2 separate regions of the Homo sapiens genome follow, and region 2 is linked to region 1. Evidence: fine-mapped expression QTL. A gene starts in region 1. The other region holds a variant in brackets. All regions are shown on one strand. Distances are from middle to middle.

The links. PIP is the estimated chance that this variant, and not a neighbour inherited with it, causes the effect. A credible set is the group of variants that fine-mapping cannot tell apart.
Region 2: its variant is the best candidate, but not a certain one, in a credible set for the expression of ASB2 in whole blood (INTERVAL, PIP 0.67).

What each region holds. Positions count from the first base shown.
Region 1 is chr14:93,974,577-93,978,576 of GRCh38, forward strand. ASB2 (ankyrin repeat and SOCS box containing 2) reads right to left here and starts at 1,994. Exons shown (of 10, transcript NM_001202429.2): 1 at 1,858-1,994. LOC107984663 (a long non-coding RNA gene) reads right to left here. Exons shown (of 4, transcript XR_001750861.2): 4 at 2,849-4,000. RefSeq lists an enhancer at 475-1,046.
Region 2 is chr14:93,944,183-93,948,518 of GRCh38, forward strand. It overlaps ASB2 (ankyrin repeat and SOCS box containing 2), which reads right to left. Exons shown (of 10, transcript NM_001202429.2): 7 at 3,167-3,338. MIR4506 (microRNA 4506) reads right to left here and starts at 4,120; the gene lies at 4,044-4,120. The variant T/C (reference allele first, on the strand shown) is at 2,245.

The DNA.
Region 1 (4,000 bases):
GGTGCACGATGGTCCTGTTTACCACTGCCACAGTACCTTGAGAGGCCACAGGACGCTGTGGCTTTGAATGTGGACCTTGCAGACCAAAAGGTCAGATTCCTGACTCCAACACTTGCAGCCGTCCAGCCTTAAGCAAGACTTTTAAGCTCTCATAACCTGTTTCCAGACCTGAAAATGGGAGTAACGATCACCTGTAACTCATGGTAGCCTTGACCGAAGTCAGTGAGAGAAATCTGCACACAAGCTTGGGCCAGTGCTCAACAAAGGCTTGCTGGTATGGCCTGTGTTGTTGTTCACTGTGAGGTCACCGTGCGTGGGTTAGACAGTGTCCCCCACCCCCGCCACCACAAGGCACTCATGACCCGGCCTGTTTGTGCAAGAACAGATGATGCAAACCAGCATGGCACCCAGCGGAGCTGCTGCCAGCTTCTTGGGGACGCTGTGCAGCACATGGGCCTGCCACCAGCTGTCAGGACCCGTCCAACTGTTTTGGAAGTGCCTCGAGCATCTGCCACTGTCTGCCTCATGGTGCTTCTGCCCAGGCAGAGGTCAGGGCTGTGGCGGGGGTGCTGGCCCCAGCTGGCTCTGCCTGCGTCCCTCTGAGCCCCCTCAAGCCCTCGCCTCACGAAACAAGCTTATCTTCAGAAGAGCATTCCTGTCCTGTGCAGGGGCTCAGCTTCTGCCCTGCTTCAGGCCTTCCTCATTTACCTGCCCTCCCTAGGAGTCACCAGCCTCCTTGCCTCCTCATTCCAGTGCATACCCCTGGCTTCCCGAAGAGCCACCGAAGCCAAATCTCACATCCTCCAAGGGGAATGGGCCACTGAAATGAAAATGATTCTCCACCTAGAGGCACCAGAAACCAAGTCATGTTTCTGGGCCTCCACCTCTGGGGCCTGAGATGTGAACACACGGGTGGGAGTGTAGGTGCCTGGCTGTGTCCCTTCATATCCCAGATGCTCAATGCATGTGGCTATGTGCATGCCGTCCTCTGCTCAAAAACTCTCAGAAAGTGTTCCAACTTCTTGCTTGGCCTGGAAGGATGTGCCTCTCCCTCTGGCCTCCCCTTCTAGCCTCACCCCCATTTTTCACATGCAGAACCCTTTGCCAGAGCCACATTTCACTTTCCATCATCACCCCAGGTCCCTTGACTTCCCTGCCTTTGCCCAAGCTGCTCCTCCACCTGGAGGTCTCTGTTTCCACCCTGAGGCATCCCACCCATCCTTTCAAAGGCCATGGCCTCCTTAAATGTGTCATGCATATGCGTGTGCACACACATGCATGGTATTCTTGCATCCCTGCATTCCACAGCTTTGTTGGATCTCACATAAATAACATTCCTCCATTTCCTCTCCTAATCCCCAAACAGTTGAAAGCAGAGCACATGGCACCTTGGCTGCTATGGTCTCCCACAATACCGTGCATGCCTAGGCACTCTGCAACAGCTACATTAAATTAACTCCCACTCATGAAAACCTCTATCTGTGCGCCTGGCCTGAAAGCATTTCTGAAAGTCACTTGTCTGACACAGATACCGCCCAAGACCTACAGACCCAACAATAGCATCATTGATAAGTCCTTTTGCATTTCCATTTTTAGAAGTGCACAGCAGAGTGATATTCTGAGCCAGAGTCCTCCAGAAGAATGGGTAAGTACATGCAAATTGCTGAGTCTCTGTTCATTGCATCCAAAACGAAAGTCACCAGCGTGCTGTATAACTCAAGAAAATACGAGAGAGAGGGAAAAGCAACATCACAGTTTGACTACAAGCGGTTTCCAGTAAGTACTGCAGCCGAAAATCCCCACCAGCCAAAGAATCTTTTGCAAGATCTGTATAAGAAAGTTGAAAGCATGCATTACCTGTTAGGCTCTGAAACAAGGGTACAATTCAGGGGTAATACAAAGGATTTTCTTGAAAGTGTCTTAATTCAGAACATGCTCCCCGAGTTTTCCTTCTGCCCTGGCCCCAAGCTTCTGGCTGCTCTGCCAGGCAGTTCTGAAACGCTGTCCTTTGAAGCAGGGAGTTTATTTTGGGGCCACCGCATGACCAACGTTGACAAGCCAAACTATAAGATGTTATACATCTCAGATTTCCTGTTTGGAGGTTGCACTGAGGAAGCTGCAATCCTGCCTTCCGTTCCTCCGGGTGCATCGAATACAGACTCTCACTTCAGAGAGGATCCCGGAGCTTTGGCCCTCACGTGATGTCATCATTTGTGATCCTTGACATGGAGGCCATATATGGGTATGTTTCTGGAACTACCCAGGGGAGAGCCAGACAGGAGAGAGATGCAGTGGGTCAGAGACAGAGGCAGGGAACGAGGACGAGGAGACGCATAGTTGGGAGACAAAGAGTGAGGAGCAAGGGAGGAGGAAGAAAGGGGAAGAGGAGAAGTAAAGGCAACAAAGGAGGGAAGGCAAGACAGCAGGAAGGAAGAGGATGGAGTGAAAGAGAAGGGAAGAAGGGGAGAGAGGAGATGAAGGAGTTGACGTAAAAGGGCTTTGGAGAAATCAAGGTTTGGTGCTGAGCTTGTGGCAGCATTTGGGGATAGCAGGTGTCTGGCTGCTGGATACTGTGGGGTGGGGCTGGGGATACAAAGGGCCAGGGTACAAATGAGCCAACAAACAAACACAGAGGCATGCGGGCAAGCCCTGGGCAGAGATATACAACAGAAGAGAGCCCTTCCTCCTGGTCTAGGGAAGAACGTCCCATTTCTGGAATAGGTCAAATGTCAAAGACAACACATACACAGCCACATGCACTGAGCATCCGGGATGTGACAGGACATGGCCAGGCACCTACTCTCCCACCCGTGTGTTCACATCTCATGCCTCAGAGTTAGGGGTCCAGAAACATGACTTGGTCTGTTCCTCTAAGGGGAGAATCATTTTTGTTTCAGTGGCCCATTCCCCTTGGAGGATGTGGATTTATGATGGCCACAGCATGATTTCTCACTGATTCAAACTCAGGAAACCTCAGGATGCCTTTACACGCACTTCGAATATTCCACAAGGAAATACATCTCAGTATACAAGGTGCCACGGGGTTGAGTCAAGGTTCTGGAGGTCTGACTGGTGCTAAAGATGGGAAGGACACCAGTGGTCCCCAGGCAGTCCCCCAGCTTCCCTGGTACCTGCCAAATTGCTCATCACCCCAGCTGGGTCAGTCTTCCCAGGCCACTGTGGCTGGGTGGCCCTCAAAGTTAGCTCAAGTTCAGCCCCTTCCAGACCCATGTGCTATGGAGGGAGTGTAGGAGAAGGGCAGAGAAGGGGCTGTCAGATTCTTTTTACTTTTTGGAGACTCTGCTACCCAGTAGGATGTTCCCCGAGAGACGTCTCTGTGGGACGGCTCCCCGAGGCCGGGCTGCTTTCCTGGGCTCCTTGCTGGAGGCAAAACACAGGTTCCTCTACTTCCTGCCCACCACCTGCCCCTTCCCAATCTGACCTGGAAGGTGGGCTGTGGCCAGGCCAGGCCCCTCCTAGGTTGCCCTCTGCCTCATGGGCATGCACACATGCACACACACACACACACATACACACCCCAAACTCCATCCAAGATGTGTCTATTCCTTCCCTCCCCTTGAATATGGGGTGGCCTAGTGATGGACTTAACAATAGAATGCAGTGGAAATGATGTCCTGAGACTTCCAAGGCTAGGTCATGAGATGCTTTGTAGCTGCCATGTTGTGAGGAAGTCCAAGCAAGCAACACCCAGGGCCCCCAGAGCATCTAGCACCAGGCAGAGGGGTGAAGACACCCTCTCGGAGGTGGATCCTTCACCTGCAGCTGCCACAGCTAATGCCACGTGGAGCAGAGACAAACCACCCACAACTTCCTGACCCATAAACCACAAGCTATGATAAAAGGATTGTTTCGTGCCACTGGGGATTGAGGTAGTTTGATATGTAGTAATAATCAACCCAGACACTCACCAAATATTCACTGCGGTCTCAGCTGCATGCTCCTCAGCTCTCGTGTGCTACCCGTGAACTTTTTTCTGACT
Region 2 (4,336 bases), 30 kb before region 1:
AAGGTTGGACACTACTGTTTTGGGTGCTATTCTTGGGGCATCTGCTCTGCGCTAACTCACACAGTTTCTTAATACGTCTATCTTTGGTGTTGATCTTTGATTTCATACGGTGGCTTTGCTAAACTGGAAATGAACAACAGGAAAATGCGTGTCTTGGAGGTGACTGCGACATCGGGACTTTAGGGCTCCTTTCTCAGCACACCCGCATGTCACCCCTTGCGGTTAAGTGTGCTGACGAGAAGACACCATCTGGCAAACAGCCTTCGGCTCCTGGTGCTGCCTTCCATGCCTGGGACGGATGGCCAGGGTGTGTTGGCAGGTGGCAGAGTGTGGAATGCCTATGGAATGTCACATCAAATCCCCGAGCAGAGGGCCTTTAATGCTGTATGCCCAGGGAGGGAGTGATGAGCTCGGGGCTTGCTGGCCATGGGCTCTGCCTGGTGGCAGAAGCTGCTGGGAACCAGGCTTTAACCCTTTGTTGCTTAGCCCTAAAAAGTGGCCCAGGCCCCTCTGAGCCTTGGGGGACAGAGGGAAATGGGGCCCGGGGGTGGAGGTTGAATAACCAGGGAATTCGCCCTGGGAATCCACGTGAATCCAAGGTAGATGAGTTTACAGGAACATCAGCCATGGACACAGTGTTCCAGGCAGGACGCGCCTTACTCTCTGATCATCCGCAAGGCCACCTAGTGCCCCTTCAGCTTCTCCTCCAGCTGGGGCCAGACTGCCAACACCTCTGGGTTCACTTGAAGGCAGCCCAGATGAAGGTCCCAGCCCTGCCGCTATCTCAAAAATCACTTCCATATCTGACCTTGGCTTCCTTCTCTGTAAAACCAGGGCCTGAATTAGATCAATGGTCCCTGCAGCTATAGACAGGCTGTATCTGATTTGCTCAGGGAGCTTTTCAAAGAGACAGTGGGGCTCCTTCTCTCCTGGAGATTCTGATTCACCGGATCTGATATGGCATTTTAAAAATAGCCCAGAGGGACATGGATGTGCAGGCTAGAATTGGGGGGCAGTGGGCCAGGAGATTTCCAAAGTGCACCCACTTCCCGTGTGTTCACTCTGGATCTCTCTGGGGTCAGGCTCAAGGTAAACTGTGTTTGCCCAACTCTGACTGATGCCCGATGATTTGTGGAACTCAAGAGAAAGGAGCCGTCTTGTCCATGCCCACTGCCTGGCTTGAGCTGCTGTCTGAACCGCTCAATCATGGAATGCACTCTCCCTAAGTAAGAGTGGGTGAGCATAGGACGCCTGAGCACACACTGGGTGCAGGCGCTCTGCTAGGTGCTTTTTTCCATTCTATATCCGTACGTATCCATTTTACTGGTCCTCCGACAACCCCATGAGGCGGGTGTAACCATTTCCCATTTTATAAATGAGGAAAATGAGGCTCAGCAAGGTTAAGCAACTTTCCCAATGGCCTCAGCAGGGATTCACACCCAGATCTGTCAGCCTTGTGGACAGCTGTGCTGTCCAGAAAAGGCTGGGTCTCCTCTGTGTATGTACTGGGGGGTGTGGGGAGTGGGGAGGGCATCTTTGGGTGGTCTTGGTGCAGGCAACCTGCACAGAAGGGGCTGGAGCTTTAAGGGGCGGCTCTGAAGCCTTGAGTCTTCATTTCAGTCTTTGGAATGTCACTTTGACCCCATTTCCCTCTGCCTTAGTGAAGACAACAAACATGCCCCAATACACGCAGTCTGTGCTTCTCACTCTCCTGCCTGTCTGGAAGATTCGGGTGTGTTTCCCCAAGTGTCATCAGGGTACATGAGATGGGATTTTAAATGAAATGTTTTTAAAATTGATTGTAAATGGATAACATACTAGTGTGATAAATGTTTCCTCTTCAAAATAAATTCATTGTAAGTAAAAACATTATTTAAAGGAAAAATTACTAAACGATGAGAGTATAGATATTTAAAATCAGGAAGAAAATCTGTGAATGGACAGTTTGGGAAGCACTGTCCAGCAAAAAGGGTCAGATGCTGGGGTTTAAGTCCTAGCCCTGGGGACGGGGCTTTCAAGGGGCAAATCTCTTAACTACCAGAGTCTTCGTTTCCTGTCCTGTAAAATGAAAATCCGGGTTGACCCGCATACCCGCAGCACAGTGTGAGGCTCACATGGGAGGCAGATGAGTCACACTCTGGAAATGACCAAGCCCTGTCCATCCTTCAAGGGCAGCTGGAGCTTCACCTCTGCGGCCCAGGCTTCCCCATGTAGCAGTGCTGCTGGGAATGCTTAAAAACTGGC[T/C]CAAGCAAGGGCAGAGAAGGGGGAAAGGACTCTGGTTTGTAGCATTTGCCTATTTCCCCATGTAAATATTCCCCCATGGCCAATTTTAAGCTATCAATGTGAGGTCAGTAAACACAGAGTTGGGAAGAGGTGTGCAGTCGGTTCCTGAGAACAGGCACGAGCTGGCTCTAGCACACCTCTGCCTCTAGCCCCGGCTCGTCTGTCTCCACAGGAGCCATGCAGCTCTTCGGCATGCTCTTTCATGATGTCATGAATTCACATGTCTGTGCTTCTTCCCTTCCTCCAGATTGCTCCTTGGGAACTTAAGCCTCTCTCTTCTCACTCAGAGTATCTAGCACTTAGTAATTGCTCAATAACTGCTAGTTCTTATCATTGGTGCTATTTGTGTTATTGTAGGTTTTCCTTGCATGCTTGCTAATTGCCTGGGAGGTTATCCTTGCATTCCTGTACTCCCGGAAATATTCATTAGCTCAGACTCATATCTGCCCCCCAGGATAGAATTCCTGTAGCTGTGACCTTTGGAGCAGGTGAGTACCTGCCGCCTATGAGCTGTGTGACCTTGGGCAAGTCACTCAACCTCTCTGTGTCTTAGCTTCCTCATCTAAACAACAGAGATAATAATATCCACCTCAGTGAGCTGTTAAGCAGATTAAATAAGTTTCTGATGTGAAGTACTGGTAAGCGCTGCATAAGGGTTTGCTGTTATTATTTCAGTTGCTGTTGTTACAGGCATTCACTCCATGTTGCTAACTGCTAAGGGGTTTCCCTCCTTTCCATGGGAAAGGTGATGTCCATTCTGACCTCTCCTGGGCCTCCCTAATCCTGTGGGTGGGACATTCAGGGCAGGCCCACCCCTCCAATCCCCTACTCCCAGTGTGGGCCTCGGGAGAGCTGCCTGGGTGCTGGCGGAGCCTGGGCTGACCTGTAGTTGCCCTTCTTGGAGGCGATGTGCAGCGGGAGCAAGCCGTCCTTGTTGGTCTTGTTGGCGTCGGCACCCTGTGACAGCAGAAACTCCACCACCTCCTCATGCTCATTCTTGCAGGCCTCGTAGAGGGCAGACGCGTTGTCGCTGGCCTGCGTGTTGATGTCAGCACCTGGGGAAGGAGAAGAGATCAGCAAGTGGCCAAGTGACCGGGAAGTTGCTGTCCTCAATGTAACGCCACCGCGTGGTGGGCCTGCTGTGCTAACCACGGTAATGCACGGGACCTTTAACAACGACCCTTAGGAAGGAGGAGTCTACCTGGGGCTACCCCCAGCTTCTTTCAACAACATCAAGACCTAGGGGCCTGGCCAGGCGTGGCTCATGCCTGTAATCCCAGCACTTTGGGAGGCTGAGGCAGGCGGATCACCTGAGGTCAGGAGTTCGAGACCAGCCCGGCCAACATGGTGAAACCCTGTCTTTACTAAAAATACAAAAATTAGCTGGGCATGGTGGTGGGCGCCAGTAATCCCAGCTACTCGGGAGGCTGAGGCAGGAGAATCGCTTGAACCCAGGAGGTGGAGGTTGCAGTGAGCCGAGACTGCACCATTGCACTCCAGCCTGGGCAACAAGAGTGAAACTCCGCCTGGAAAAAAAAAAAAAAAAAAAAAAAGACCCAGGGGCCTGCCAGCCCGAACAGAGGCCTCTGAGAGGCTACAAGCAGCCACGATGATGCTGGTTTTTCCTGAGCACCTACTACGTGCTGAACATCGTGCTTTCCACAGGCTATATCTGAATCCACAGTGGGTGGTCACCTTGTGAGGTCAGTACTGCTCTTATCTCCAGATTACAGATGGGGACAGTGAAGCACAGAACACCTAGACCACTTGCCTCAGACCACCCATTTCATAAAGATGGAGCCAAACTTGAACCCAGATGGTCTGATGGCAGAGGCCATGGTGGATATTCTGATGGTAGAGGCCATGCTCTTAACCCTCACTCCATGTAAGAGGGCCTGGGCTCTGCCCTGAGAGAGGCCTCACAGGTCTAGGAGGGCACAGAGCCCCTAATAAAGGAAAACCCCAATAACATTATTAATTGCAATTTGCTATTAATATTGCTATTATTATTGCTAATGTTACCATGCTATTAATATTGATCCTTACTGCTATC